Linked DNA regions of Homo sapiens: all the other regions are linked to region 1. Evidence: fine-mapped expression QTL. A gene starts in region 1. Each other region holds a variant in brackets. All regions are shown on one strand. Distances are between the middles of the regions.

Evidence for each region. PIP is the estimated chance that this variant, and not a neighbour inherited with it, causes the effect.
Region 2: its variant is the best candidate, but not a certain one, in a credible set for the expression of PKP4 in putamen (GTEx, PIP 0.64).
Region 3: its variant is the best candidate, but not a certain one, in a credible set for the expression of PKP4 in sigmoid colon (GTEx, PIP 0.61).
Region 4: its variant is the best candidate, but not a certain one, in a credible set for the expression of PKP4 in whole blood (TOPMed, PIP 0.80).
Region 5: its variant is the best candidate, but not a certain one, in a credible set for the expression of PKP4 in whole blood (TOPMed, PIP 0.77).
Region 6: its variant is the best candidate, but not a certain one, in a credible set for the expression of PKP4 in whole blood (INTERVAL, PIP 0.59).

Annotation. Positions count from the first base shown.
Region 1 is chr2:158,454,376-158,459,572 of GRCh38, reverse strand. It overlaps PKP4 (plakophilin 4), which reads right to left and starts at 2,621. Exons shown (of 22, transcript NM_003628.6): 1 at 2,355-2,621. CCDC148 (coiled-coil domain containing 148) reads left to right here and starts at 2,820. Exons shown (of 14, transcript NM_138803.4): 1 at 2,820-3,158. The coding sequence starts at 3,134. It overlaps LOC124907900, which reads left to right and starts at 1,439. Exons shown (of 1, transcript XM_047446754.1): 1 at 1,439-2,442. The coding sequence starts at 2,119. The coding sequence ends at 2,442. RefSeq lists an enhancer at 1,262-1,341 and silencers at 1,622-1,841, 1,872-1,931, 1,952-2,001, 2,252-2,301, 2,522-2,891 and 1 more.
Region 2 is chr2:158,724,635-158,729,831 of GRCh38, reverse strand. The region is part of intron 1 of PKP4-AS1 (PKP4 antisense RNA 1); the gene reads left to right. Among named protein-coding and RNA genes, the nearest start is that of PKP4-AS1, 7.8 kb to the left of the region's middle. RefSeq lists an enhancer at 4,582-5,081. The variant C/T (reference allele first, on the strand shown) is at 2,734.
Region 3 is chr2:158,545,491-158,550,687 of GRCh38, reverse strand. The region is part of intron 2 of PKP4 (plakophilin 4); the gene reads right to left. It also overlaps the pseudogene RPL7AP22. Among named protein-coding and RNA genes, the nearest start is that of PKP4, 91 kb to the right of the region's middle. The variant C/A (reference allele first, on the strand shown) is at 2,752.
Region 4 is chr2:158,391,097-158,396,293 of GRCh38, reverse strand. All of the region lies in intron 1 of CCDC148 (coiled-coil domain containing 148), which reads left to right. Among named protein-coding and RNA genes, the nearest start is that of CCDC148, 63 kb to the left of the region's middle. RefSeq lists a silencer at 934-1,087. The variant G/A (reference allele first, on the strand shown) is at 2,308.
Region 5 is chr2:158,491,091-158,496,239 of GRCh38, reverse strand. All of the region lies in intron 1 of PKP4 (plakophilin 4), which reads right to left. Among named protein-coding and RNA genes, the nearest start is that of PKP4, 37 kb to the right of the region's middle. The variant C/T (reference allele first, on the strand shown) is at 2,189.
Region 6 is chr2:158,656,290-158,661,486 of GRCh38, reverse strand. PKP4 (plakophilin 4) reads right to left here. Exons shown (of 22, transcript NM_003628.6): 12 at 3,173-3,356; 13 at 37-154. It overlaps PKP4-AS1 (PKP4 antisense RNA 1), which reads left to right. Exons shown (of 4, transcript NR_135242.1): 4 at 1-3,150. Among named protein-coding and RNA genes, the nearest start is that of PKP4-AS1, 76 kb to the left of the region's middle. The variant A/G (reference allele first, on the strand shown) is at 2,977.

The sequences.
Region 1 (5,197 bases):
TAAATTAGAAGATTCACTGATTATGCACATAGCTGAAAAACAACGTAGCAACCAAAACATAAACGTTTCTGAGTGCAAAATATTTTTTTCTATTTTTTTTCCTTTCTGTTGAGTCCTTAACTAAAGGCTCCTATTTAATAGTTTTCAATGTCCATGATCTACACAAAGTAGGTGTTGGAAGAAAGCTGATTGGTCAGACAACTGACTTATTATTTTACTGAATCTGACATAAAATAACCAGGTGCAAAGAGGTTTATCATAAATGCAACCTGCAAAGCAAATTGTGTCAAATAAAAACACACATATGATGCTTTTCAACACCCAGAAACACTTATTTCAGACATTAGTTGTTCTCGTTTTCATGTTGCCATTTTCCATAACTGTTTCACAGGCACCAAAACGAAGATACTCCTACAGCAATATACTGCATTCAAGAAGAGAAGCATTCTTCTAGTTTCTCTTTAAAAATAAAAAGAATCTAAGCTCAATTCTAGCGAACCATTTTCTGTCAAAATTTTGCTCTCCCGTATTAAGGAAAACAAAATTTGACCAAAAATGCATACTAGCCATCATTGATTTTACACGTAAATAATTACCGTTCTTTAAAACTTGTAGGGCAGCATTTATTTTTTTTTTTCAGTCAAACTCAGTAACAAAGAGAAAAAACTGAGACCTCCACTAATAAATTACATCTTGAAATATACATGATTGTGGTGTCCCCGTGTTACTTTCAATGGTAACTGACACGTCCCGAATTTAACTGTACCAGACAGTTCTATCTGTCCCATCGCTGACCGAACAGTGCTTCTCTGTTTCTATTCATTATGTATTATACGAGGTCTAAACACAGCCCAGTATGACGAGGGAAAAAAATTACACTTCTTAGGATACCAAAGTGATGCATTCAAGATCTCTCTCGCAGTACATGCCCGTGAGCACTAACAGGCATTTTTTGATAGAGCTAAAATATGTTGGCTGCAAGCTCATTACTCTAACAACCTTCAGGCCCCCTGTTTCTGCTGGTTTTCAGAAAACCCTAGTGAAAACCAGGCACTATCCAAACCTTGCACACCAAACTTGCCAACAGCCCTGTGCAATGATCAATAACCTTGGCTACACAGTCATCGGCCCCAAATTCACGGTCCTGAAGACCAATGCAGCAAAAACCCAGACGAAAGGCTAGCTGGAGCCCCAAAGAATTACCGCGCTTCCCCTCTGCCGCATGGAGGGAAGCTATGGGAGGAGAGGAGTGGAATGAGGCTCACCAGCTCCGAAGATGCTCCGGTGACCTCTGGCTGCGCGGCGAGAGCTGGGGAGGGAAGGCGCTAGGGCAGCCGCGGCGGGCTGTGTGGACTCTGCCCCTGGTGCATTCCTCGCATTCCTGCACAATCTGTCGCCAGCCCAGGAGCCGGCAGCGCGCGTCCCCCGCTGTACACACACACCTGACTACCGCTGCGCCCCGAGCGGCCACGGCCGCCGCGGCACCTCCACTGCCCGCGCTCGCGGTGTGTCGCACTCAGCCAACACGCAGCCAAATCCCGGCCCCGCCGCTCGCTCTCCGGGTAGCGGTCCAGGGGAGAGGGCCGGCAGCCTCGGCAGCGGGCGGGGATACCAGATCCGCCAGGGAGGTGCCGCAGCTCCGCTTCAACTCCTGGCAGGGAGAGGAGGAAGCGGCGGCGCAGGAGGGCAGCGGCGAGGCTCGGCGCTGGGGAGCCGGGAGGGGTGGAGCGTGAGGATCCGCGGCCGGTAGAGAGGGGCGCACTAGGCAGAGGGGTGGGCAGGACCGGCAAGGAGTACAGGACTTCGGGGACAAACGCAAGACCGCGCGGGCAGCAGGGGCGTGGGAAGACGGGGAGGGGACCAAGGTGCAGGATCTGGGGCTAGAAGGACAGACAGCCGGCCCCGAGTGCTGAGGAGGGCGGGCGCCCAGTGGTGTCGAGGGCGACTTGGGGCGCGCGGCGGCAGGCAGCGGGGAAGCCGCCGCGAGGGCGTCCAGCAGGGCTCAGCGCGGCGCTCAAGTTCGGGGCTGGGAGCTCTGAATCCGAACAGCCCAGCGTGGGCAGAGGTCGTGCGCTGCGCGTACGGGAGACCGGGGAGAGGAATCGCCGGGAAAAGCAAATGGAGGGTGAAACTTGTGCGCCTGCCGGGGGGAGGGGAGCAGCAGGCGAGTGCGGGCAGGAACACGAGGCGGGGCAGGAAAGCCGCGGCGGCCGCGAGGCGCTGGGGACGCGGCAGCGGGAGGGAGGCCCCCGGCCCCCGGCGCGCAGGTCCTGGCCCTGGCGCGTGTTCGGGGCGAGGGCCGAGGGTCTCGTGGGCAGGAGTCTCCGCGCCCTCCCGCGAGCCCACACACTTACTTTCCAGCTTAGGCAGCGGCCGTCGTCGCTCCAGGGATCAGGGACATCGGCGCCGAGGGGTCGCCGCTGCGGCACCCGAAAAAATTAAAAAAGTGCCGCGGCGGCGCGGCTGCCCGCCCCTCCCTCCCCCACCGGCCCCCGCCCCCGGAGCGGCTCTCCCACCACCCCCGGCGGCGGCGGTGGCCAACTTGCCCCTCTACCCCTTGCCCATGGTGCCGCCTCCGCGGCCGGCGTCGACGCGGACTCAGCCCCGGAGCCCCCTCTACTGCCCAGAGGCCGCCGCCGCCGCCCGCCCCGCTGCCAGCCCTCCCGCCCGGCCAGCCCCGGGCTCCCGGGAACGTCAGCACGCCGCCGTCCCCGGGCCAGCTCCCGCCACCCCATTGGCGGGAAGGAGAGGGCTGGCCCTCCCCATTGGCCCGGCCCTCATATTGAACAGGCCAATGGGAGCTGCGGTTTCAGGTCGCCATAGAGACCGATGCTGTTCAGCGCGAGAGGGCCTGGAGAGGGTGGGTGTGAGAGAGAAGGTGTCTCAGGTCTCGGGCGCGGGAGGGGGTGGCGGAGAGGACAGGGAGATTCCCCAGCGCTGGCTCTGAAATCTGGGGCAGGCTTTCCTTGCCTTACTGCCAATCCCAACTGTGCCTGGTAGGGTTTGTCCCTGGCGTCAAAGGTAGGAACAGCTGAGCCCTTAGATGTACCCCTGACGGCGAGAGCCCAGGAGTGGGCGTTTCACTTTTCCTGCGTTTGGGGAGTCCCTGAGGCTATGCCCTTTGACCTTTGACATGTGTGCAGCTTCTGCTTCTCCAGGTGAGTTTGCACCCCATCCCTTCCATCGCTGCTTCCTCCTGACGTCACTGAGCCACCTAAATCCTACTTATGTTTGTTCTCTGCAGCCACTCCCCCTTCCCTGGGGTGGATCTTTCCTCAACGTTTTGGGTCCTCAAACTCATAACTCTTCTGAAAGACTCAAAGAGGATTTCCTTTGAGGATATTTTGGTAAGGGAACGAGGTGGCGGATTGTATGATAGATGCCAAAGCGTCAACACATGAGCTAGCCTGTTCCCTGATTCTCAAAGCAAACCTCTAATCTCCCTGTGGGCAGATATTTATTAAACACATCTGTGTGTACATCCCGCACTATGAGCTTGACAGGTGCATGTTCTTTCACTTGAGAGGTTACAGGCTTGTTAAAGATAGAGGAAACAGAAACAATCCTTCACACCTTGTGATGATTTCACAAAAGAGTAAGGGAAATGGATTACAGTTGATGGATTTTGTTTTCTATTTTCCAGTATCTCTTTAAATTTGATATGGAAATAACCTGAGGCATGAAATCAGTACACGCAAAAATCTTGAGCTTTAATAATGTCTTCTACTTTCATTTAAAATCATTTTGTGGTGGTTTATCAATACTAATTGTTTTTTGTCAATAAATTTTATGTTTAGATATCACCTTCTTAAAGTGAGATTTCATGAACATATTAGGCTTTAAAAGATGATATTGCTCTAGCCTATAGCCACTGATATTCTTACATTCTTTTGGCGATTTTACTTTTTTTAGACTAATCTCTTTAGTAAGGAGACTATGTTACTACCCCTCAAATTGGAGGGACCATATTGTGTGAAAAAGCTGATAGGATTTTGGAAATTACAAATATTTTGTTGGGAGAAACAGGTTAATGTGTGTGCAAGCTGCATATGTCTAAGTATTGTTCTGAATTTTAAGTTGGGTGATATGCTTTGCTACTGGTTTTTATCTTACTATAATTGAAGATTACAAAGATGTAACCTAAGAAATGTTAATATGGTGCCTTGATTGGAAAAAAAAAAACCTCTCCACATTTGTAGTAAAATGTGAACTCAGTTGACAGTCCTACACAGGGTAGGACTGTGGAACAAAACAGGTGAACGTGTGTATGTTCCCCCTAAATATTTTCAGAATTGAGAAGGGATCAGCAGGGGCCAGGAAGTGCTGTGCCATGGCTGGCCATCATGGAAATAGGCTGTTTTTTACTTCTTCCGGCTTTTTAATGTGTGTTTTTGTTTATAGAACAGAAAAAGTAAACCACAAATTGTTATATGAGACACATGTTTAATGAAAAGATACCAATGATTTTGCTTCTTTTAAATTTCAATAACATCAAATGAATGAAAGTTGTGTCTAATGGAAAGAAAAAATGGGTCTTTTCTCTTGCCTTAGGCTAGCATAGAAAGAAGAAAATAAAAGATTATTACTCCAATAATCTTTTTGTGTGGGTGTTTTTCTCAGATGACTATTTTGATATTGTAGATTTCGTGTTTGTCATAATTAAAATGTTACTGAAATCCACCATGAATAATGTCCCCTGAAATAAGTTGCCACTCAACATTAATTTTTTTGTTTATTTTTGTATTTAGTTGAAAGGTTTCTTTTGAACTTGCTCCTGCGCTACTAAGCATTGCTAGACAAGGTTAAAGAATCACTTCATTCCACTAAAAGTTCATGCTATTCAGACTTGGCTGTGTCTTCACTGATTCTCAGTTCCTTTCCTCATCAGGAGGATGATTATCTGGAACACTTATCCAGGAACATTATCCAGGCCACTTCCAAACCTGTCCAATGTCTGCTCTCCTGAAGCCCCCACTTTACGTGGTTTTCCTGCACTTCTGCAAATGATCTTGCCTCGTACTCTACTGAAGGATCCACCATGAGGTTCCTCAACTTAACTTTCTTAAACCTCAGTCCTAGTTTTCACACATCTTCACCTCCTTCAGTCATGGCTGAGAAGGGTGACCACATTTCTCTTCAAGGCTCATACTCCACTTATGCTCCTAAACATGAGCCATCTTCTCTCTACCAGGATTTT
Region 2 (5,197 bases), 270 kb before region 1:
CACCCAGAAGATGGCCCAGAGGACATGTGCTATGGCCCAGCAAGTGTGCATGTCATGGGGATCCAACCACTCTGGCCCTTTCCTCACCCAGCATATTGATTCCTCCGGAGTGTCAGACACTGTGCTGGGCCCAAGGGCAAAAGCTGTCCCCAGGCCCCTCTACCACAGGAGACCGGCCAGGACACACTGAGCATCTGCAGGAGAGTTTAGGCAGTCCCCTCCCAGGCTGCTCCACGCTGGCCCTTTCTGCTCCTGCAAAGCTGCCCATCCATCTTGCTTTATGGACTGCAGAACTGCCTCAAAGGCAGACACTTGCCCCTGTGGCTGAGGAGCAATGAGCTGTCCACTGGCAGCTCTCCCGGCAGGAATAAAAAGACTGTACTTCAAATAAAGTTTCCTCTAAAAAATAAAAAATAACAAAAATAAGGCACTACCCCGGTGTTTCCCATATGTGAGCCTGCCTTTTACGGCCTGGATGCTTGACTCTCATTAGCATTGCTGAAGAAAGGCTGTTGACTGTACACGGGGGCAGCTCCAGGACTTACGTATTGAGGGATTTGGGGGCAGTGTGGTGGTCAGAGAGGGTGGGGTCTCTGCTTATTGAGCACACTGGCTTTTGGGGAGATGCTGATGGAGAATGCAGAAGGGTAAGACCCTCTCCCATCACCTCCACCAGTTCTTGGCAGCATCCCAAATTAAGCCTTTGTTCCATGAATGGAGCCAGCACTAGGAACCAGGAGTGCCGCATGCCAGTTCCAGCTCTAATTAGCTGGGGGACTTTGTACAATTCCAAAATTTTCCTAAGCTTTAGGATTCTGCTCTGCAAGGAGGTTGGACTTGGACCACATCGTCTCTAAAATCCCTCGAAATGATTCTAGGCCTTGGAGGAAGAAAAAGAAATTGGAGATACAGTTTCCATCCAAGGGAACACTAATGATGGTGAAACGATAGCACCACACGGAAACATTGATGAAACTACAAATGGTGAAAGTCATGGAAAACTCTTGCTTTTTGTCCACCAGCATCTACCCCCATTACTTCTGGCAATAGCTCCCGATTTCCATTTGGGAAGGTCACGAGGTTCTGCTTCCAGGGATGGAACTCATGACCTACAACATGTCCTGAGTCCAGCCACTTCTCGCCAGCTCTGTCACCACCCCCGTTCCAGCCACTACTGTCTGGCCCCTGTGGCCCCCACCCCTCTCCACATAGCAGCAAGGGGGCTTTTCCAAGCATAACTCATGTCATGCCTCTTCCCTTCCGAAAAGCCTGCAGACTCCACCATGGTCAGAATGAAGCTCTGTCTCCTCCCCATGCCGGCAGGGCCCAGCCTCCCATGGCGTCTGCCACTTCCCCACCTCTCCTCCCCTTGTTCTCTGTCAGTCTACTTTCCTCTGTCCATACTGGCCACTTTGGCTCTTCCTTCACCAGCCTGGCTTATTCTGCTTCAGAGCCTCTGCACTGGCCCTCTCTGCCTAGAATATTCTGTGCCCGGATCTTCTCGCAGCTTCTATTCTCATTGCATTCAGGTCTCAAATGTCACCTCCTAAGAGAGCCATCTTATTTAAACAGCACTCTACCCCATACCCCACATCAATCTCTACCCTCTGAATCTGCTGTAGGTGGTTAATTTTTTTAATATCTGTTATTTCCTAATTTTGTATCATTCTGTTTGATGTATTTGTTTGTTTTCTGTCTCCTACTGGTAAGTAAGCCCCAACAGAGCTTACTGCCTTGTCAATATTATGCCCCCAGAATGCACAATAGTAGCTGGTACATAGTAGATGCTCAATAAACACTTGATGAGTGAGTGAATGAGGTCAATCTGAGCATTCAGTGTCCCAGACATATTGGTTGGTTCTGGTTTGGGGGTCACATGACTTAACCTGGTCCAGGCAGAGTGAATCTCAGGACTTTGCCAGAGCACTGGGTGACAGGCACCTACCTGCTTTGGTCTGCTGGGCTAAGTGTTGTTACGGTGTGAGGCTGAGGCTGCCAGAGCTTCCAGATGGAGTCAGGAACAGGGGGCCAACCCAGGGGAAGAAGGACCAAGGGGCAAAACCTGCTGGCATTCTTAGAACCTGAATAAAGCCATACCTCAAGCTAGAACTTTCTATGACTTTTCTAACTAATGTGAGCCAGTTCATTTCATAAGCACTGTCTAGTTAATCTTCATACAACACCAGAAGAGTTCTGCTTACCCACATTTCCCAGATGACAGAATCAGGCTGAGGAAGAAAAGTTGAGTGACTTAGTCAAGGTCACACAGTCAGTAAGGGTCGGGTTAGGGCTTGATTTAAGGTCTTCTCGCCCCAGTGCTGTGTTCAGTATTCTCCTCCCCAAGGCCTCTAATGGCCCTTTTCTGGGGAAGGCAGCAGCCTTGCTGACATGACAGAGCTGGGCCAGGGTGGAGTCAGGTCAGCCTCGCAGCAGAGCAACCTGTTTGTGTTATTTCTGTTTATATAGGGCTTTTCTTCAAAGCACTCCACCTGTTTTTGCAAATAACTATTACAAGCCTTTTCTGCAGCAAGTCAAGAAGAGACAAGGCAAAACAATGGCAACAGATGTTCCCCAGCCTTAGAAACTGGTGAGTGGCCATGCTTGTCAGCTGATGCAGCTGACAGAGCCCAGATTAACAGCACAGGCCTCTGTGATCTGTCTTTGAGAAGTGACGTGGCACCTCACAGATGTTCAGTCCTCATTGTCCGTTGGCCCCACCAGCAGGGTATGAGA[C/T]GATGAAACTCCTTATGTTTTAAAGAGTGGCCAGTGTCTGGCCTTTGTCCCTTCCAGGCTCCTCTCCCAAGAGCTCCACTGGGGACGGCTTTGTTGGTCTGGACCGTGAAGTTCAGCTGCCTCTGCTGGCCCTGCTCCAAGGATGAGCTTTGTTTCTCTGAGCTGGGTTCACACCATGTGAGTCCTGGGTCCAACTCCTAAGCCTGAGGTTTCCCAGCAGCCACCTTCAGATTGACTGCCCAGGTGACTGTTCTCAGGAACAAGCCTGCAGGGAAACATCTCAGCCACACTTGTGCCTGAGGTGGCCAAACAGCATCTAAAGGACTCAGAGGAAGACCAAGGGGTGGCCTAGGCTCCCCTGCCGAGCCCCCAGGCTCTTAGTGAGGGGTGGGAACCATGGGAGCTACCTCCATTCATCCATAAAGCCTGCTCAACAGCCCTTTCCTTTCCTGGGCCTGGTTAAGAACCTGCAGTGCCTCTCACTTTGCCTCCCAGCCAGGCCACTGGGTTCCTTCCCAGTGCCTGCCTGCTCTGTACTTGGACCAGGGCACAGCTCAACCTGAGTCTCCTACCTGGGTGGTGGCACCTATCTCAGCATATGGCCCTGCAGAATGAGGCTGAGAAGCTACCTAGTGGGCAGTCTGAATTCAACTAGTAAAGATCAGTTGAGTTCTCATGTGGACTCAAGTATTCACTTCTTTGGGCAGTTCTCAGAAAACCAGAGTCTAGACAGAGACTGGCCAGTTTTTGTTTGCCTTTGGCTAGAACCCACTAGGCTTGTACTAAATGACCATCTGGCTGCATACACATAAGGGTCAGGTAATTCCTGTAAATCCACGGTCTTCAAGCACAGAGGTGCATCAGATTCAGGCGGAGAAGACTGGGCTCCGCCTGCAGGGATTTGGGTGCTATGAGTCTGGGATGGGTTCACTGCATGTTTCTGCACCCCCACACCCCAAGGCCTTTAATTTCATAGACATAAAGAAAAGTCCTGCAGATATAAGGAAATGAGAGGTGATCTCAGTTGATGGGGGAGACAGTGGCCCATCAGCTACTAGGTTTCAGCTGAAGATCAGTACAGATCCCATGTTGCAGAGAAGAACAGAGCCAGTGAGCAGAGCTTCTCCCTGGCTTCTCCATTCTCTTCTTCACAGGAGGGGACAGGAATCCCCTCATAATTTGTCCCTATGACAGCCGAGTTGTCACCACTTGGGGAGCAAGGCAACCCCTGATGTCATCAGGTGCAACACATAGCCAAGTGAGCCCAGCGCTGGCCAGGCATTGGTTATGCACTGCACACACCCAGCTCTTTGTCTGGCTCACTCCTAGCCAGACTGCAGAGGCATTTGATAAGTGGCAGCCATTCAAAGCCAGAGGGACTCTACCCTGTTAAAGGGATGCCACTCTCAGTCCTGATGGAGACAGCGAAAGGGTGGATGTCTTTGGGAACAGCCTGCTATAGCAGGAAGCAAGCTGTGCATTTGTTAAAGGATCACATTTCGCCCTTGGGTTAACTGGCTCGGAGCAAGCAGTATCATCTCTGCTCTGGGAGGTTGTTTGCATAGGCTTTCTCCGCAGCTCTACCGGGCCATGGGCGGCCATAATATTACTGTCAGCAGTAACAGCTGGCACTTTCCAGGTACTCAGGAAACTTATTAATCCCCATTATGACTTTATCAGGTGGGCACTAAAATTACCCCCCGCCCTTTAGAGATAACTGAGGCGCAGAGAGGTTAATGACTTGTCTGAGAGCCCGTGCCAAGGGAGTATCAGCTCTGGACAGTGAACCCAGGCAGTCTTGCCTCTGGAGTTCTCCACGGCTTGGACAGGAGAACAGGGCACCAAGTGAGTCTCAAGTCTGCCAGGCCAGTGCTCAGGGACCCATCCATTGGAGGGAGTGGTGAGGTGGGTACCATTTGCCTCGTGGGATGGAGCAGCTGGTGTAGTCTGGGCACTTCAGGTCAAGGGTTTTGTGACTAATGCCACAGATATGTGATTGGGTGACTTTTTTTTTTCCTTTTCATTAAACAAATTGTAAGATTAGTGACTGGGGCATTCCATAAACGCACATCAGAGTGTTCCAGAGAGGTGTGGCTGCTAGGGCAGAGAGAGAAGGCAAACACCAGCCACCTGAAGGGCTGGGGGAACTCCAGCTTCTGCTTTCCAAAGACACAGCTTCCAAGAACAGCAAAGAGAAGCCAAACCAAGCTCCAAGGAGCATGCCCTGACAGCCGGCTGCAGATCCCGTCCAGGGTGGCTGGGCTGTTGCGGTCCTAGAGGATCTGTGGGTCCCTCTCTCCCTCAGCCAGGTGTCTGGACACCTGAGCAGCAGTCCCCCTCCAGGGTCCCTTCCCTGCCAGGCATCAGAGCCACAGGGGAGACCCACATGGAGACTGCCTGGTGCAATTGCAGCTGACAGCATCTCCATAACTCACGAGCATGCTCTCACTGTGAGGAAAGCCAC
Region 3 (5,197 bases), 91 kb before region 1:
TAGAATTGCAGGAATTCTCCATTAAGTCTGAGAAGTAGACAGGCCCCACCAGTCTATCAGAACAGACAGTGTCTTACATTAACATGATCCCAAGTTGCCACCTTTGCTGAGAGTGCAGCCAAACAGCAGGACTAGAAATCACACCCCATCAGGGAGTCAGCCCTGGTGGTAAAGTGCTTGTTGGGTCACACTGTTTGTCCAAGGACTCACAACCACCGTTTGAAAACTGCTTTACAGAACATTTTCTGGGGTGATGAAAATGTTGTATATATTGATTATGGTTACATGACTACATTCATTTGTCAAAACTCATTAAATTTTATTTTACATAAATTATACCTCAGTAAGCTTGCCTTTAAAAACATTAACACACATGTCCATATTTTCTTTTTATTAAGTTATGACTTTGTAAGCTATAAGTGACATTCTTACAACTCTGGCAAAATACTGCTATAGATTCATTCATGAATCCACTTTGATACACATTACAAATAGACTTCTGTGTTTGAAGCAACATTTTTCCACATTAATAGATTGTTTAACTTCTTCTTGGCAGAAAAGTAATGTTTTATTCTGAGAGATCTATAAATGTAACCTTCTTTAGAGAGCAGAGCCATAGATGGAGCCTCAGGAGAGTGAGATTTTGATCTTCCGTCTGTGCCTGACCCTCCTATGTTGGACAATACTACTCCCATTAGCGACACTGCTATGAGATAAAATATTACTTACATTAGGTTGAATAATTTTAAAACTACAACCATGCATTTATTAGGCATAATCTTAAGTAGTTTTCACAACCTAAATGTTTTGTTTCTGTAAATTCACAGAATTTAAGCAATAATGGAAAAAAACATGTTTTATGAAAATAAACTACTATCCCTTCAATAAAATCATCGGAATTAAATCAAGAAAACTTTTTAAACTTTTGTGAATAAATGCAAAATATGAGTGTTGGAATATTAATGACCCTTTCCATACTGGTCAACACGGAAGATTAAAATACTGGGCTATTCAGTTGAATCAATCTTTACCTCCTCCCTCTGCTTATTAAAATATTATAAGAAAAAAAGTTCTCTGTTTTGAATTCCAAGCAGAGGGGCAATGGCACCTAACCACCTGCAGGCCCAGCAGCCCTTAGTGTGTGGAATAGCAAAGGGTGGGGAAAGAGGTCTAAATCTAGGGGTGGCGGTGGGAAGGAACATATTCAACCAAAGCACTCGTCCCTCACAGGGGCGTAGGTGAAGGGCCACTAAACGATTTCCCAAAAACTCTGAAAAATATTATAAATAAAATTTAAAAGGATTAAAAAGCAGACTACACTGACTCAAGCCTATTTTTTAGACATGAAATAAAATATGATCCACCCCTGTAAAAGTACCATTCTGATAATACTGAAAACTTAATTTATTTTTGGAAGGAGAATTTTTGTTATTTTTATGTGCAGAAAACTCAACCGTGTACATTTAACCCAGTTTAGTGGCAAGTCCTTTAGCGTTTGCCCTTTCCAGCTTGGCAAAGCAAGCCACAGACTTGGAACCCAGGACACTGCCTCCCCAGTGATGGCGGATCTCATCATATCTATCATTGTAATTGGTCCTGATAGTTTCCACCAGCTAACCGAAGCTCCTTTGTCTTCCAAGTTAACCTGTGTGAAGGCAACAGTGGTGCAGGGTCTTCCTATGCACAGACATCCCAGGCTTGCCTTCCCCTTGATAATGCAGTCAAGGACCCCCATTTTAGGACATAAGGCAAGCAGGAAGACAACTGGCTCAATGGGATCCATGTCATGTGCGATCACCACCAGCTGAGCCTTCTTGTTCTCCAAAGGTGGTGACAATGTTAACCCCTACTCGAAGGACAGGTGGTCTCTTAATGGGGATGTTCCCTTTGCTGGCAGCTTTCTTCTCAGCCCAGGCCAAGTCTCTGCTTCTTCTCTTGCTTTGTCTCTGGTCAGTACTTATGGGCCAGCTTAAGCAGCTGAGTAGCTGCTTGGCGGTCCACGGCCGGGGTGAACTGGTTCATCGCAAGAGGCACTTTCAGCTCTGGATAGAGGACAGCTCTTTGCTGCTGCAACCTGATGTAGTAGCAGGGGCATTTGACAAAGTGGGTTAAGATCCCATTTGGGCTAGATGTCCTATCCAATGCCAAAATTCTCAGGTCTTTTCTCAAACAGGGGATCCATCACTTTCTTGGCCTCCTGCTTCTCTGCAACAACAGGGGCCAGGGCCACCTTCTTCCCCTTGGCCTTCTTTCCTTTTGGCATCTTGGGTGGCTGGAGGAGTGAAACTTAACATTTATGAAGTTGAATAATCTAAAGGAATTTCTTCAGGGTTAACATAAAGAAGCCAAATAAAAATATTAAATTTCTCCACAGGGTTAAAATTTTACTTATGCACAAATTTTGTTTTTTCATAAATATGAGTATAACTGTTCCAATCTTAAAATACTCTTGAAGCATAAGATGTTATTTCCATAATCCTGGTCCTCAAATAGATGAGTCAGGCTTGATTTTATTAAAACTACCAATACAGGCTCCTTATGTTATTTCAGTAAAATTGTTTCCTGTACAGAGTACTCCACAGGCAGTTAATTGTCTGAATCCCTGTCTGCCATTCAAAAGGCTTTATTCTAGTCATAGTGGATTACATTGCACATATTTTTCTCCAATAGAAAAATAAATGTTAAGATGAACAAATCTAAAACAAAATTTTTATATCCAACAGCTTCACCCAGCCTCAGCACAGACTTGAA[C/A]TCCGGTCTTGAGCCTTGTTGGCCGACTTCACGGAGCTTCACTCCTCGACGCTCAGCCTAATGTGTGGTCTTGTTTCTTTCACTCAGGTGTCTGCTCAAAAATATTTTATGAGTGCCCAATATTAAGCTGCATACTGGAGTTTTGTAAAACAGTGTCTATCCAAGAGTCTGTGCTCTATGGAAGCCGATAATCTAGTTTAAGCCAGGGTCTTACTGTGATTCTTAAAAACATGTTAATGTGTTTTAAAAAGTCAACTTTATTGAGATATAACTTACATGCAATAAAATGCACCCATTTTAAAGGCACAGCGTTAGGGGTTTTACTAAATGTACACAACAACGAGCCACAGCTCCAATTAGATTCAGAATATTTTGGTCATGCCACCACCCCGCAAAATTGCCTTAGCTTCTTTGCAGTACTGCCCCTCCCTTTGTTCCCCAGCAATCATGGACTTGCTTTCTGTTGTTACAGATTAATTCTGCCTGCTCTAAAATTTCTATCAATGGAGTAAATCAGTACGTACTCTTTTATGTTTGGCTTACTTCCTTCACTCAGCAGATTTTTGAGATTCATCCATGGTGCATGTATCAATGGTTGGGTTCTTTTTTCTTGTTGTATGTTATGAATATAATTTATTAATTCACCCAGTGACAGATAATTAAGTGGTTTCTAGTTTGGTGGGTATTTGTGAATAACAGTGCTATGAACATTCTAGACAAGTTTTTGTGTGGACATACTTTTTCTTTTATTCTTAGGTGTGACCCAGGAGAACTGCTGGGCCATAGGGTAAATGTGTTTAACTTTACAAAAAATTATCAAATTGTTTTCCAACATGGTTGTGCCATCTTACACTTACCACTGCCCCCCCATGGCCCAAAAATGTAAAAGTCATCTTAGGTCATAGGTGATACAAAAATAGGTGGTAGACTGAATTTAGACTGTAGGCTATAGTTTGCTCCTTCCTGCTTAAGAATTTTCTATATATACAATAATATCCTTTGTGAAAAACAGAGTTTCACTTTTCCTTTCCAGTGTGTGTACCTTCTACTTCTTATCTTACTGCATAAAAAAGAGGCCTTTTTACTTACTGTAGCCTCTCTGTGAAGCCAATCCTCTGACCTTTTCTTCTCTCAACTTTGAGATTTCAGCATTTCTGCAATGCACCAGGCCTGGTTTCGTACTGTCTCTATGTCTGTAAATCACATCCCCTTGCTCTTTATCCTTAACCTGTGCCCACCTCAAAGATCCCATGCTGTTTTTCTATGCTTATCTTCTATCCTCTGAGCTGCACTGTCTGAGAGGAAATCTTGTTCTCAAAAGTGAAATTAGTTTGAATTTGACACCTCTCTTGGGCTGCCTACTGCTACATTTTTTGGCTCATGCCCTATGGTGCTACTTCTCTCAACCAAAATTTCACGTTTCTTTCCTGTGTACTGAGAAGGACAACCAAACTCCCAAATATCTTGTGATTACTTAAAAAAAGAAGATTTCAAAAGCATCAGGTTTAAATATGCAGTGCTTACTATTTGTGCCATCTAACCATCTTTACCTGGGCATTTCCTGTTTGCAGGCTTCACTCTGAAAGCAGTTACAGAAGAGACAGTTTTCATAATCTTGCAAAGAGAATAAAGCAAAAATCTGAAGAAAAATGACGTTTGAACAAATGGAAACTATATGACAAAATAAATTGGGAAAAGAACATATGGCAAAAGAATCTAAAAAGATTAATATTTGAAATCAGTCTTTTTCATTTTATTTAATACCACTTAAAGTATACTAAAATTCTTTACTTAACTAAAATTCAGTTCAAATAAAACCCAGAACAGATACACAAATTCAGAATACATTTCAGACAGTCAAATACAAAGAATTTAATGGGCAGTATCCAAATGTCAAAAACATATTCTGGGTACTAAAGAGATACCAATTTAATCTGAATTTACATTTCATTTTCTTCAAGATTCAAACCAGCAAGAATAATTCAGTATCTACTACAACCAAAAATATGCTTCCAATTTTGAAATATTTTTAAAAGGCACTGTATATAAACCTTCCTTAAGAGAGGAACTATATGCAAGAGAAATTGAGTCTTAGAAATTACATAACAAAAGTAATCATAATTCTTGGCATTTATGAAAATATTTTACCTTCAAAGAATTTTTACAAACACTAAACTAATTAAATTATGCAATACACATGTGAAATCTCATCATCAGTTTACAATTAGGAATAACTATGGTACCAGGTTTAAATCAAGCATAAACCTAGGGGGTAAATATGCAGTTATATATGGATATAAGAATGAGTAGCTGTAATTATTCATGGATATGATGAAAAGTGACTAGAAACAGGTTTAAATAAGTATAAGATTATGAACTGAATGCAAGTATTATTAGGAAAATCCTAACCTCTGCAACTGCTTAGACTCCCTAATAGCTATGCTCT
Region 4 (5,197 bases), 63 kb after region 1:
TCTCATAGAGAAATAAACTTTTTAGTGCAGAAATTTTAAAAAGATGATGAAAACATGGATTTTATATAATATTTCTCAATTATTAAATATTGGCATTAGATGCAAATGAAAAGCTAAACAAAACACTGTGAGGGTTAAAATAATTATGTCTGGGGACCAAGTTGGGCCTGATGTGTTACCTCTCTCAGGGAAAAATTTTGGAACATTCAAACCATGTCAATGAGTGATGACACAATACAATAAGAGATATAATCTTCCGTATTGGCCAGTAGTTGGACTGTCCTTAGCCATTCCATCAACAATTGCTTTACGGAAGACTCTGGGGAAATCCCAGTTTATTAAATGTTGTATAAAGACTGAAAGAAATCACATAAGTAATAATGATTGTATTCTTAAGCCCCTACTATGTGCCAAGCACTTTGTATAGCTATTTTATTTAATTCCCATAACATTCCTGTTAGACATGTGAGGATAGATATTTGAGAGGTCAAAAAATAATAGCAGCAACTTGCCAAAAATGTATAGCTCTAGCAAGGGGCAGTGTGGGGTGTGAATCCAGATGTGCATGATTCCAGAGCCCTTTGTCTTCCTGCTCAGCTCTGCTGCCTTTACAGTGACATATTGCTGTGAAGTTGGCATTATGCTGGATCTCACATAGGCAGGGAAAGGCTGTCCATGTTGTTCAGCATGACTTTCAGTTTCAACAAGGAGATTCCTCTAATCAAAATTATCTTTGTACACTACCAGAAATTATTCCCTTTCACATTATCACTCAGGCTGAAATTTGAGCCTTTACAGATTCTTTAGTTTTAACAAGCATACTCCTGTGTAGGTGCCTGCTCAAGCAGTCTTTCCTTCATTCACTTGTTAACATGAAGTTAATCAGATTATATCCTTCAAACAACTAGCTGAGATAATAGGAATTTCCCTGGACAGCAGGGAGGAGGAAGTGGCTCTTCAGAAATATGTGTCATTGATTAGATGGGGTGACTGGGCTGTGGAAGTTGGGATAGGCCCTGTGTACCACGGGCAGGTTTCTGGCTGCTTCAGAAGCAGAAGAGTGGGCACAGAAGTTTGTTAATTATGTTACCTTTTGCCTAGATCTGTCCCCTCAACTAGACAAAACCATATTATTGGCTGGTGTTTTTTATCCTATTATATTTATGGTACAGAAATGTAGCATTTTTTTTGGCTGTGAATTAGATTTTGAATATTTTTTATGTTTCTAAAATAAAACTATTATCTTTAGAAAATTAATGTTCTTTTTTCCTGATTAAGGAACAGACTCTGTCAATAATTAAAGAGAAAACAAAGCTGAAGAAATAATCACAAAATAGCTCTCTCTAAGGGATAGGATTATGGACTTTCAATGTATTGTTTGAATTTTTTATAATAAGATAACTCATTTTAGAAGGAGAACAAACAATAGAGTTTTGGCGTTGGAGGAGGGTGAATGAAAAATTTCTTAGTTGTCAGGGTGTAGTCAGAATGAGGTGGGCAAGTTTTACTGCCTGTGAGTTAGCATCTGTGATTACCTCAAGGAGAGAGGCCCTATTGAGGGTATGAGGCTCATGAAAGGGAACAGAGGAGGGGCCGACTCTCCAAGTTTTAGTTGGTCTTTCCTTCTCCCTACTTCTGAAGCCCCAAGGAATGTGGGGTTTCTCCACAGTTTTTTTTTTTCCTTCTGGAAGTGAGAATGAGAATTTGGAAGAATTCAGGGTGATTCAGTACTCAGAATTCCCTGACATCTGTTAAACCTTAGTACTGACTGTTATTTATTAGACAGCTTTGCCCAAAACAGCCCTAAATGTTTACTGTGCCAGCCTTCCTAGAGTTTGCTCATGCCTTCTTGTAACCTGAATCCTACCTCCCAAGTTTTTAGAAGTCTCAGAATAGTTCTATTTTCTTTCCCTTTTTGTTCATTTTAGATATCAGCTATGAAAAATTTTATTCTTTCATTTTGGTTCAGATGCAGCTTGGGATCCTCAACTTATTTCCCTATTTATTTGTCAATGGAAATTATTGCTTTGCCTTACTATAATACACTGTCTCTCTGCAATTTCTGAATTTTCTAGGAGTAGAAGAATATATGCAAATGTTTTGCATATATTAGTGCATAATAACTAAGCTTTACCCTCTGTAAATAAACTCAAAACTGATGGACAGTGGTTGTAAGTGGAATGAGTCAGGTGATAATGACTTATCCATTTGAACCTTAAACATACCTCTTTGGTCAGTCCTCAGAGTCCCTTACTGGTATTGAAGAGTAAGAGATCTACAAAGAAGAATATTAGGATCTAGGAACTC[G/A]GAAGGCTCTTTGGTCATTAAAGGCAAAATGACAATCACATCCTTTAAAATCAAATTTGTTATATAATTATTCCATTTGTCTATCCCACAGATATCTGGTATAAGGAAAGGCTTTTATGGGTGAAACTGTTCTATTTTTTGTGATACTGTTGGAGAAAAGACCCATTTATTTAGTTCCCAAGAAAGGTTATCTATAGCAATGTCTTTTAATATGACATGTTCCTCAATGATTTCTCTTTAAAAATCCATCCACCTCTGTGATCTGCTCTCTTGTCAGCTCATCTATTTAATTTTGGCTGCCCTTTTCAAAATTGAAGCCATCGGTGTTCTTGGCATCAGCAGATTTCTGTCAATCCTCTTTTTATCAGTTTTTTTCTCTGTCTGTATCTGAGTCTGCCCACTTGGCCCCCTAACCTGTAGCTACACAGAATTGCTTGCTTGTACTACTTCAAACATATCCCACCCTTGTGGCCCCATCACTCAAATATCTGTGTTTTCTAAGGCCTTCCCTTTCCCTATAATTGATGAAAGCCCCCTGCTATTAAAGACTCACCTTATACATCACCTGTCCTATCTTTCTCCACCTTGGCCCTCCATCCTAAGCAAAATTAGGCTATCTGCCTTTTGTGCTCCAGTAGCATAGCTACGATATCATGATCTCTGCCTCACTCCACAGACCAGAGTTCCTTCATGTAGAGTACAAGATGATCCAGGCAGCATTCGACCTATTTTTATTGATTTGAAATCTAAGGCAATATGGTAAGCTTTTCTAATGTTTCATGTATACATCCATCCTGGCACCTTCACTCAGTTCCCCTATTATTCCAGGTTTGCTCTCACACATTTGCTTATATTCAGCATATTATGAAATGTTATAGTTATTTTTATCTGGTTTTAAGAGGATTTACAGATTATGTTAACTTTTTTTTTTAAACTAAAACTACCTTCACAAGATGGACAAGTATCTTAAATATATTCCTACAGAAACACCCTGACTTGTAGATAATACTTGTAATGTAAGCACACAAATGACAGGAAAAAGCCAGAGCTGACTCCTCTATACTGCTACAAACACTGTCAGCAATAGCATGGCATGTGGTTGTGTGCAGTCGTATGCAATGTCTCTGACATCAGGCCCATCACAGTAACAACAACAGTAGCAATCCAGTAACATCTTATAGAAGATTTAAAATGACTCAGATAATTTAAAATATAGATTTATATCTGTGTTTCACTATTGCTGTCTAGTAACATTATCTTAAGGGTTTATTTTGCCCTGAGAGAGTAGATGAAAGTAATATAGTAATACAAATAATTTATATAGTATATAGTAATGCAAATAATTTATGATAATTGTAATAGTTTACAAATATAGGTTTAGTATCCTTTATCCAAAATGCTTGGGACCAGAAGTGTTCTGGATTTGGGATTTTGGAATGTTTGCATTATGCTTACCAGTTGAACATCTCAAATCCAAAAATCTAAAATCTGAAATACTCCTCCAGTGGACATTTTTTTGAATATCATATTGGTGCTCAAAAGTTTCAAATTTTGGAGCATTTTGGATTTTGGGATTTGGGATGCTCAACCTGTAATAAATATTCATTATTGACAGAACATGCTGAAAAGTGCATTAGTAGGCATATGTAATAAAAAAGTTACAGACCACTACTATGAATTTAGAGATGAATGCCCAGAGCTGTTGCAGAATAGAGACTGTATTGTTTTCATCTTTGTAGCTCAAGCGCCTAGCACAATGACTGGACCATATTATATGCTCAGTAAATATTGAATGAGTGAATAAATCAATAGAAGAATGAATATAGGATGGGGAGTGTTATAATCTCAAACTAGAGGTGAGAAACCAAGATGAAAGAACCTGATGACTCAGATGCAGGAAGTGGATTTATGTCTGAGTATGCAATGAAATTATGACCCTTCTGCAGCGTGAATTTATCTGGTGAAGTCATCACTTTCTGTCTCATGGGGAAAGGGAGATACTGCCAGTTGGGGAGAATCTGGGACTGTTCTCCTTTTGATTTCACCCTAAAACTGCCTCCTCTTTTTCAGATCCTCCTCCAGGTCTCATCCCCTCACACCACCACTTGTGCCCCTGTTACCAAGGAACCTTTATTGCCTGATATGCTCACCTGAATTACTGAGTGATTTTGCTTATGTCTGTGTAATCACAGTCCCAAAGCTATTTTCTGATAAATGATTACAACTTTACTTACACAATTCTGCAAGCCCATGCCTCATCCTTCAGTATAAGTGAAAAGAATCTAATTCATGTCATGATATTGCAACAAAAATTTCACCTTAGGCCTCAATTGTTTTACTATTTAAGAATTACTTATCCTTGGATGTTGTGGGTTCCTAATAGAGGGATCTGTTAATTATTTTTATTCTTAAATAATAATAAGTGCTGAGGCAAGCAATATGGACTAGCAATATACTTGTGTTTTCAGAAATAAGGAAAGATCATTTTTCTAATATTTTAATAGAGCAAAACAATTTCAGCAACTAGTAGTATAAAGTCTCATTACTTGGGTAGCAAATGTTTAATTCATCTGTGTCATCTTGGTTAAATGTTCTCTAAAATTTTATGATAGTTATAAGCTTAGCTTGTATGGTTTAGGAGTAGTAATATAGGCAATTCACAAGTAATATTGACCTTTTAATTAAATGTTCATGATAAATATAGAATATCCATTTTGAGCACAAATATTTTTTATTACATTATTGGGAAAGAGTTGCAGCCATCAATAGTAAATGGAGCTTGCCCTTCTGTAATTCACGGTTCATCATCACAAGAGGCCACTAGACAGTAAGCACCATGAAAGCAGGAAACATATCCTTTCACTCACTGTTGTAGCCTCCATGCATAGTA
Region 5 (5,149 bases), 37 kb before region 1:
GGAGGCTGGAGCAGGTGGATCACTTGAAGCCAGGAGTTCCAGACCAGCCTGACCAACATGGCGAAACCTGTCTCTACTAAAAATACAAAAAATTAGCTGGGCGTGGTGGCACGTGCCTGTAGTCCCAGCTACTCAGGAGGCTGAGGTGGGAGAACTGTGTGAACCCAGGAGGTGGAGCTTGCAGTCAGCTGAGATTGCGCCACTACATTCCAGCCTGGGTGACAGAGTGAGACTCCATCTCAAATAAAATAAAATAAAATATTTTCAAGTAAAAATGTATACAAAAAAGAAAATATATGTTAAAACTGATATTGATTTACCATAATGAAAGGTTAAAAATATATACATATATACCCCTCTTATTTATTTATTTATTTATTTATTTATTTATTTATTTATTTATTTAGAGACAGAGTCTTGCTCTGTCGCCCAGGCTGGAGTGCAGAGGTGCAATCTCAGCTCACTGCAACCTCCGCCTCCTGGGTTCACACAATTACCCTGCCTCAGCCTCCTGAGTAGTTGGGATTACAGGCACCCACTACCACGCCCAGCTAATTTTTGTATTTTCAGTAGAGTCGAGGTTTCACCATGTTGGCCAGGCTGGTCTTGAACTCCTGACCTCAAGTCAGGACCTCCTTGGCCTCCCAAAGTGCTGGGATTACAGGTGGGAGCCACGGCACCCGGACACTCCTTTTTTTTTAAACATAGTTATTACTAATGGCTACAAAAAAATTCATTGTCTGATGTACTAATATTTAGAATTTTTGAGAGTATAAGCGACTCAGCAGAAAACAGTTTTTGTCCACTTGTCTGATTATTTCCTTATATAGCACATTAGAAGTGATGAGCCAAGTGAACTTTCTGGGCTTTGTTGTTTTTTTTTTTTTTTAACTCTCCAGAAGAATTGTAGCAATGTGAGTCCAACTTGCCAACGCTCATCCACATGAGGTTTTATCATTCTTTCCAGTGTTTGTCAGCCTAATCTGTGAAAAAAATGGTACTTCATTTTTATTATTTCTTTTGAGACGGAGTCTTGCACTGTCACCTGGGCTGCAATGCAATGGTGCAATCTCGGCTCACTGCAACCTCCGCCTCCTGGGTTCAAGTGATTCTCCTGCCTCAGCCTCCCGAGTAGGTAGGATTACAGATGCCCGCCACCGTGCCCGGCTAATTTTTTGTATTTTTAGTAGAGATGGGGTTTCACTATGTTGGCCAGGCTGCTCTCGAACTCCTGACCTCATGATCCGCCTGCCTCGGCCTCCTGAAGTGCTGAGATTACAGATGTGAGCCACCGCGCCCGGCCACCTCATTGATTTAATAGTTTTCCTGACTACTAAAAATGCACAACTTTAAAAAAAAAAATAGAGCAATGATCATTTATTTCATCTCATTAAAGTTTTTGCAAAACCTCTAGAGGTAGGCACGATTCTCACTTCACTGATTAGGACATAGGCTCAAAACAGTTTAAATATCTGCCCAAAGTTAAAGAGCAAGCAAATAGCAAAACTAAAATCTCTATTTGGTTATAAAAAATCATTTGCTGTTTGCTTACAAATTAAAAGAACCATTAAGTGCACTTTATTTATAATGGGGATATTTAGTACTTTGAAAAAGTCTTTGCAACTGGTCTAGAAAATTTCATATTAAAAACCTAAATAACTGAATAATGAAAGTAATCTACTACCATATTTTAAAGTGCTTTACTATCCATGATTACCTAGTTTAAATATGTTATTACAAAACAAATCATCCTTAATGGTATTAATCATCACTTCAGACATATCAGGTTCATAATTCGCTCATCTACTTTCAAATAACTAACACATTTTATTTATTCATATCATTGCAAATAACGCTGTAGTTTACAAGTATATTATTTGGCACAATTGATATTTCAACTAACTTCAAGTAAGACTATATAAAGGTCACATTTTTTAGGGCTGTTTCTTGTTTTATACAGAACCCATTTTCCCCTCCATAAGTAAAAAAAAAAAAGTACATAATATAAATATATACTCTGCTGTCCTAGAGTAGTAGAAACATAGTGAGATGCCTAAATTGGTGTAATGGATGAGCTTCTTAGTTGAAGTCGAATAAGCAGTATGCTAAGTACAAATAGCTTTTCCCTTCTCATCAGTGTTTACCTTTTAAAGTTCCTAAACTGTATTAAAAAAGATCCAACTTTTAT[C/T]ATGGCAAGAATCTGCCTCCCTCCTGATAAGACTGAAATGAAAATGTCAGCTTCATTTTAAATGAATTTTGCACCCCTGGACTCCATTCATTTCTTCCCCAAAGACCAAGAAATATTAGTAGTGCAATCAATAATCACACTGGAGAATGAAAGAAGACTGAAAAAAGGGGTCCACAAGGGTGGGGAAAGGGGGAGAGTGAGGGAAGAGGAGAGAAAGGCAACAGTAAGACCTAGATTAGCAGGAAAAGCTCACCAGTCCTGAAACCTCAAGGAGGAAAGCATGTTGCCAAGTGAGCAGCACTCACAAAACAGAAGCCCAGGCCAAATGCTGCTCAATGCCCTCATGCAGCAGTGCTAGACACCTACAGGGACTAGAAGCCTCTTGAGACCTTCTCAAATCTCTCAATTTGCTAACGTCACTGTGTCACCGACTTCAGTTTTGGAAGAGGGCTACTCAGGCATTAATGACACTGTGCAGCAGGCCTAGAGAGCAACCAGTCCAGCCTGGAAAAGGAGGACAGGTGGCTGGTCCCAAATGTGAGGGTTAAATGGGATTCACTGATGAGCTGCTAGGGTAACCACATGGAAAATGGCACTAAGAGGCTAAAGGAGGGTGTGAGAAGATTTGGCTGTAGATCAAAACGAAGTTAAGGAAATGGAAAAATGAGGCAGGTATTTCCACTGGTGGAAAAAACACTTGGATTTAAAAAACGATGAGAAACTATTTGGCTCACTGGTGAATGATATATATAGTCAAAATAATGGAAACAATAAATAGTAATTTAATAAAAAATTATGATCTGTCATTATTAGGAAAACGGGAAGACAGCAAAGGGGTATAAGGCAGAGATTCTCATCTATGTATTAACAATAATAGATAATATCTAAAATTAATGATTTAAAAAATAATATGTTATTTAGAAATAAGGAGATGAGTATCAGAAGAAATAGACAAAGTAACTGAAAGTATATACTTCTGGCAAAAAGAATGAGACAAGGGGGTCAAAGGACTGTTATAATTTGTTATAAGGCTTTCAATATTTTAATTTAAAATAAAAAACTAAAACAAACATTAAAAATAAACAGTTTAGAAAATAAATATTATTAGGTAGGGAGGAAATAAAGGTTATGTATAAAGACTATGCCTATGAAGCATAATCCCCTTTTCTTAAAGAAACAAAACCAAAAAGCTGTTCTAAATGATGAAATTATGGGTAGTCCATCTTTTGGTTAGTCTGCATTTTCTACTGTAAACACGTATAACACTTCTGTAAGAAGAAGAAAATAGTAATGTTAAAAGGTACGCAGGAGGAAAATGGTCAGCTGGAAACAGAACTTAAGTAGTAAGAGTCAGAAAGACAAAAGGAGACAGAAAAAAATACTATTGTAACAGGCAAAGAAGGAAAGCAATTTTCCCATGGAGTGGGTTGTCAAGTGTTGATGGGCAAGACAGATGAAGAGTATCCTCAGGAGCAAAGCCCGGGCAGGGTGGCAGGAGGGGAAGCAGGGTGGCGGAAGCCAAAGGGAAACGGGGTTGGGGTTGGTGTGGGGGAGAGGGGGTGCCAGTACAGCTCTCTGGAAGTGAAGGCAGGTTGCTGGCTGTTGTTAAAATCTGAGGAGACAGAAGATACTTAAGGAGAAGCAACCAGTGGAGAGGAAGCAACTGAGATTAAGACAAAGATGATTCCTCAGCTAAAAAAAATTAACTTCGCATAACTTGCTTTTTCGGTTTCTTATTTTTATAAGAATATGGGAATATCTGAACAGGGGGAAGGTGTGAGATAGATTCTGAGGAGTTTCCTATTCCCTGTGATGCCTTGTTTCACTCTGTGGGCAACTGAGGCCATTAGATTTTTTTTTTCAATCAGGGCAGTGACACAACGTAGACTCCAGGTGCAAGAGAGCCAAATTGTATAAAGTAAAACTATAAAGTTAAAAAAAGGGGCCCGGTGCAGTGGGTCAAGCCTGTAATCCCAGCACTTTGGGAGACTGTGATAGGAGGACTATTTCAGCCTAGAGGTTTGAGACCAGCCCTGCCAAGATAGCGAGACATCATCTCTACAAAACATTTAAAAATTACTCCAGCATGGTGATGCGCACCTGTGCTCCATCTACTTCACCTCTAGCTACTAGGGTGGCTGACATGAGGGGCTGCTTGAGCCTGGGAGGTCGAAGCTGCAGTGAGCCATACTTGCTTCACTGTACTCCAGCCTGGGTGACAGAGTGAGAACCTGTCTCAAAAATAAAAATTAAAAATAAAAAAGAAAGCACGAAGAATACCTTGAGAACTAGGGCTAGAGAAGGATTTGAACAAAACCTTCAAGCTATATGGCTGGGGTGGGGGGTGAAGGGAGAACAAACGATGATTTTGATAGCACATTTAATGATTTCTGTTCAATAAAGTTTACAGACAAGTGGGATATTAAAGACTTTTGTAACGCCATAATAAGGGATATATATCCAGAATATAATGATGTCCCTCAAATCAACATAAGATTAGAACCCCCAGTAGAAAACTGGGCAAAAGGTATGGACAAAAAATTTACAGAAGAGGATACCCAAAAAAAGATAACAAGCAGATGAAGACATTATCAAGTTCATAAGTAGTCAGAGAAATACAAACTGAAAATGAGTTGATTTACACCTGGCAGACTGAACCACGCTAAGTGTTGGGTTGTGGAGACATATAGATGGATGCAGCCATTCTAGAGAGTATCAGCACCGCACAGCTCAGGCAAAGTAAGAGTACTGATAGTCTATGATGCAGCAATTCTGGTGCTAGGCATATTTCCCACAGAAACTGTCACACAGGTCCCAAGGGATCACGCACCCCTTTTTACGATGGTGAGGAGGTGAATGCAATCTAAATAACCATCACAGAAGGAGGGGAGAGATAAAACTGGATGGATATATATCATGAAATACTCAACTGCAGTCAGAATCAACAAGCTAACACAGACA
Region 6 (5,197 bases), 200 kb before region 1:
GCCACCACGCCCTCCTGCAACCAGGCCGGCACTGACCTTGCTGTCGTAATCGGATGTGTTCACACACGTGTGGATCACATACAACAGTGAGTCTACCAGCCCCTCGCAGGACCGCATTTGCTTCCGAGCTTCTTCCCCCGCGGAGCTGAGGTTCCTAAAGGGGTGGAGACAGGAGGAGCTGCTGAGATGAACCATGCACTCATCAGCCACGTGGACTTAACCTTAAGGATCTGAGAGAGCGAACAACAGGTGGCAGCCACTTAGAGGTCGGAGGAGGCACTGGGGGCTTGCATGGTAACATCCTGAAGCTCACAATGATGGCCCGCTCCCCATTATCCACACATGGAAGGGAACCTGCACATTTGGACTGTATCTCTCTCATGACGTGTCACTTTCTAATTCCCTCATATAATTCTTTAGGGGCCTATTCTCCTGAGGTTCTTCATATGTAAAAGGGGGAAAATAACAGTAACTACCTCACAGGGTTGCTGTGAAGAAGAAACGAGTTGCTACATAGAAAGCAATTAGAAAAGTGCCTCCTTCCCAGAAGGTGGCCTGCTGTCAGTCATGGTGGTGGCTACTACTAGACATGCTTCACCTCCCTTGTTAGGCCAGAAGCTTCTTGCAGTCCCCTGGGCCTATTATAATATTTTGCGTGCAGTAAGTAGGTGGTCATTAAATGTTTTTTGGATGAACAGAGGAAACATATAATTTCTTGTATTATAAACATTTCAAGTTAAATATAGATATTTGCTTATGCTAAAACTTTTCTGATCTTTTCAATTATAAAACACCCAGAAAACGGTTTTGTGTCTAAATTTTTTTATATCAATTTGCCTTCATAAATTGATACCAAATAAGGATCTATTTTATGTCCCATTAACAATGGTTCTAGGCTAACTGTAAAATTATGCAAATTGAGAATTTGCAAAACTGTGACTAGATGAGGGGGCGGTGGAATGGCGGCTCTCATCTGCCCTGCCTCTCCGCAGCACTTTCCTTTTCTCCACAGCTTCTGGGACCCCACCTGGCTTCTCTCTCACCTTGCTACTTCTCAGACTCATCTGCCCATGGGCACCTCCAGGAGTGCCCCAGGTCCTGTCTTGTCTTCATCTTTGCACTCTCCAAGGTGCCTTCTGCTCCTTGTCTTTAATACAACCTATGGACACAGGGCCATAGGTTGGCACACATCTGCCTTTAGCCCTGACTGCTCTCTAGAATTGCGGATTCTTTTCTCCAATGCTTTCTTGACACTGGCACATAGACAGCTAATTAGACTTCTCAAACTGGACATTGTCAAAACTCTGAGCTGCTCACCCTTCCAAGCATTCCTGTCCCTTCCCCCCATCAACAGCACTTCTGTGCTTGCAGCTGATCCAGCCAAAGATCTAGGTGTATCCTTATTTCCCCCCTTTCCTCGCTCTTAATATTCGATCTATTAGCAAGCCTTGTCAGCTCTTCCTCCACAAAATAACCCAAATCTGCCTACCTCACCCCAGCACCTGGTTTAGGCCACTCTCACTGTTTGCCTGGATCTCTGCAACAGTCTGATGTTCCTGTCTCTACTTCTGCCTGTACTCACTCCTCCACACTGCAGCCAGAAATGAGGCCCACTACTCCACTGCTTAGAACACTCTGATGGTTTCCCATGGCACTTGGAATAAAATGCAAACCCCATCTGACTTACAAAATCCTATATAATCTGGTACCACTCTGCCCTTTGCTCAGTAGGCTACGGCTGCAAGCTCATTTCTGCTCCAGAACCTTTACCTTAACCATTTCCTTGACTGGCCTATGACTCTTGTCTTCCCCAACACCACCCTCTAGTGAGTCACTCCTTGTGGTATTTCAGATGTAGGCTTAAATTTAAACTCCTTGAGAGACCCCCTGACCACCAAAGTAACCATTCAATAACCCTCACATCACCCTATTTGTTTTTATGGCACCTACTGTTATTTTCTTGTTTCCTTGTTTGTCTGTCTTCCTGGTAGAATGTGGTTCCATCAGAGCAGGGATCTAGTCTGTTTTATTCGTCACTGGTTTCACACAGAGGGCATTCACCAAATGTTTCTATCCCTGACCCACTGGGGGAGCTACAGTGAGTCCTGCCCCAGGCTCTCCCTGAAGCCTAGCTGGCTGGCTGAGGAGTAATCCTAGCTCCCTGGATGATTGCTAGGCCATGAGACCCACCCTGAGATGTGGGCATCTGAATTAGGAGGAGCTGGCCTGCATTCTGGGATCCTGACTCTTGTTACCTCCCCACCAACACTGCCCCCTGACCAGGGCCGATAGCCACCTGTCTCAATGCTAGAAGGCTGCAGACCAGCCACACAAGCTTTGCTCTCTTTCAGGCTGCCTGTCTTGGTGATGCTAGATGTTAAACAGCACTCACTGAGTGCTCATGCGATGACACTGTGCTAAGCACCTTCCACAAGTACCTGCTGACCCCTCACAGCTCTGAGGTGGTATTATCATCCCTATTCTACAGATGAGGAAACGGAGGCTCAAACGGGTCCTGGAAGCCAGGTGGTCTGAGACCAGAGCCCACTCTCTCTGTCCCTGTGCCACTCTGCCCTAAGGCTTGCTTCCAGTTCCCAGGGTACTGTAAGGCTGGGAAATAGGGTCAAAATGGAGCTGATGAGTGTTAAGGGCAAATAATGAACTCTACTGTGCACACTCGAAAGAGGCTTTATATATAGATTTTAACTGTAAAAGATAATGACTAAAAAAGTATTTGGGCTCATTTTCACTTATTTATACAACTTGAAACTGATTGTTTAAATCACACACCTCTTTAAAAGCAAAATGGTTTTAACCATCACATTTTGAATTTAAACAAACAGCAGGCTGCAAACACATTAGCAATCAGAATGCGATTACCAGAAAAATGCTGTTAAAGTGGAAAACACTGGAATTTTGGCAGTAATCTTAGACTGAAAGGGCCTTTCTGAGTAAGTCACAGAAGAGTCATTTACA[A/G]GATAACTTCTTTAAGGCCACAAGTCTGTGCTCACGATGTTTTTCTCCCAGAATAACAAAGTCCAGTGGCCTAAATTTTGAAATAAAAACTGGAAACTTAGATAGATGTTAATAAAGTAAGTCCTCCTAAAATCAATTTACCTATGACACATATTTAATCACAGAATTAACTGGAAAGAAGAAATAAAGAATTTACCTTAGGCAACCTGTCGTGTTACGCAGAACTAGTGAAGTCTGAAATTTAATTTTATGATCATCATCAAAAGAAGAGTTATTCCATCCAGAATGTGGAACAATCACAGTGTTTGTTAAGGTTGAGAGAGCATCTCGAATGATTGTCATTTTTACAGCATCACATGAGGATAAATTCCAAAGAACTCCTAAAAAAGGAGATTTAAAAAATCAAACAAATAGAGATCCTGTGGCTTTAGAAATAAAATAAACGTATTAGCTCTAATTAATATGAAGTCAGTCTGTTCCAAACCTAATCTATGGCCTATATTTGCAACCAGGGTGGGAATAGACCTCTAATGAGTTTTGAGTGAAGGTATGAGCCTCCGACAACATATTACAAATTCTTAATATTCACCCTCTTGGATTTTAGAGGGTGAATATTATACACCCTCTGTATCTATTAGGCAAGGTGACTGTGGATTTTGCAAAGCAAATTAGTTACTCTGCAAAGGGAGAGGGGCACAATCCAAGCAGGGGTCTTGAATATAATGCATCTGTGATTTTTACAAAACTGCTATTCATTGCATTGTATTTTACATTTAATGTCTGTGTGACAAACCATTTTTAGAATTTAGTACTTGGAAAAATATTTCTTTTTCTTGAAAGACTGGCATGTTTTTCTTCATCTGCTTCCTTTTCTTACTTTTGCTATCAGAAAGCTCAAGCTTCAATAAAGCACTTGCCGTAACTTTCCTGGCATGGATGTTTGTTATATTTGCTTCATCCACCTTACTTAGATAAGGTTTAAACACTTCTATCTCAATTTTAAGAGTTTTATTATCATGTGCTTTAGAAACACACGTTACTGTCATTCCTTTTTGGAAATAGGTGAAACTAACAATAAATTAAGAATCGCCTGTATTGTAATTCATATCAAGATTTCAGGATAACAGATCTTAAATGGAGCTTATTAGAGTTCTGTTTAATGATATTAGAGGGCCTTAATTTTTGCACCAAGTATGAGGTAGCTAAAATTATTATCATAGCACAGGTTTTCCAATAATTGCTCTCATAGACATTGGAGCAAATTTGAGATGATACCTACCCTAATGTCATTTTCACATCAGTGCATCTTCCTGAGTAAGAGGAAAGTAGGTGGAGAAGAGATGGTGCAGCTGGTTTTTCTCTGCATTCAAGTCCCCCCCAGAGTCCTACACTCCTGACATACCCTTGGCAAGTTGCTCGAGTCTGTACAGTGCTTTCACAACTACCAACACACAAAAACGTTTGTGGCCTTGCAGAGGGAGGGGTGGCAAAATCTGCCCATGTCCATGGGAGCGTGTCAGGCTTGTGAACATGACTGATCAAGAGCGTGGCCCGGAGACAAGACTGAGCACTGCTGCTCCAGCTGTCACGGCCCAAGAAGCCAGCCTGGACACCACCTGCTCAGCCTTCTCTGGGTGCCCCCTGTAAAAGAGGGTGGTATGGGGAGGAAGACAGGAGCTCCTTCCTTTGTGGAGGAAGGGGATGTAGAAGCCAAGGGCTAGAAGTGAAGAGAGTGAAACAATCTTCTGACTCTAAACTGCGTGAGGACTGCCCCTTCCCAGGCCTGTCCATGTGCTGTGGAGGGAATGGTCGGACTGGAACCTGATGCTTGTGCTCTGGCCTCCTCTTGTGTTCTGCTCTGCACCTGTGCCCACAACTCTCCTCTTTCACTTGGCTTTGACTTCTGGACCTTGCTGATTTGGTTTCCCTTGTTCCCCAAGGACTTTTACCCCTTTTCTACTCCTATTCCACCATAACTACAGCCTTCAGGACACAGGACGGGCGGGAGACTTAAGACAGTTCTGAATCAGGCAAGTAAAGACCTTGCTTTACTTCCAAAAGCTTGCTCTGTTCTTCTTTTCTTCTGTTCATGATAGACCTTTGCTTATATAATTATCTTGGGGTACACAAAAGCTAGGGTCCCGTTAGAAGGCAGCACGCATTATGGGTGCTTATGAAAAGAACTTAAATTCTACAGTTGGAGCTATTTCTCCACGGATTC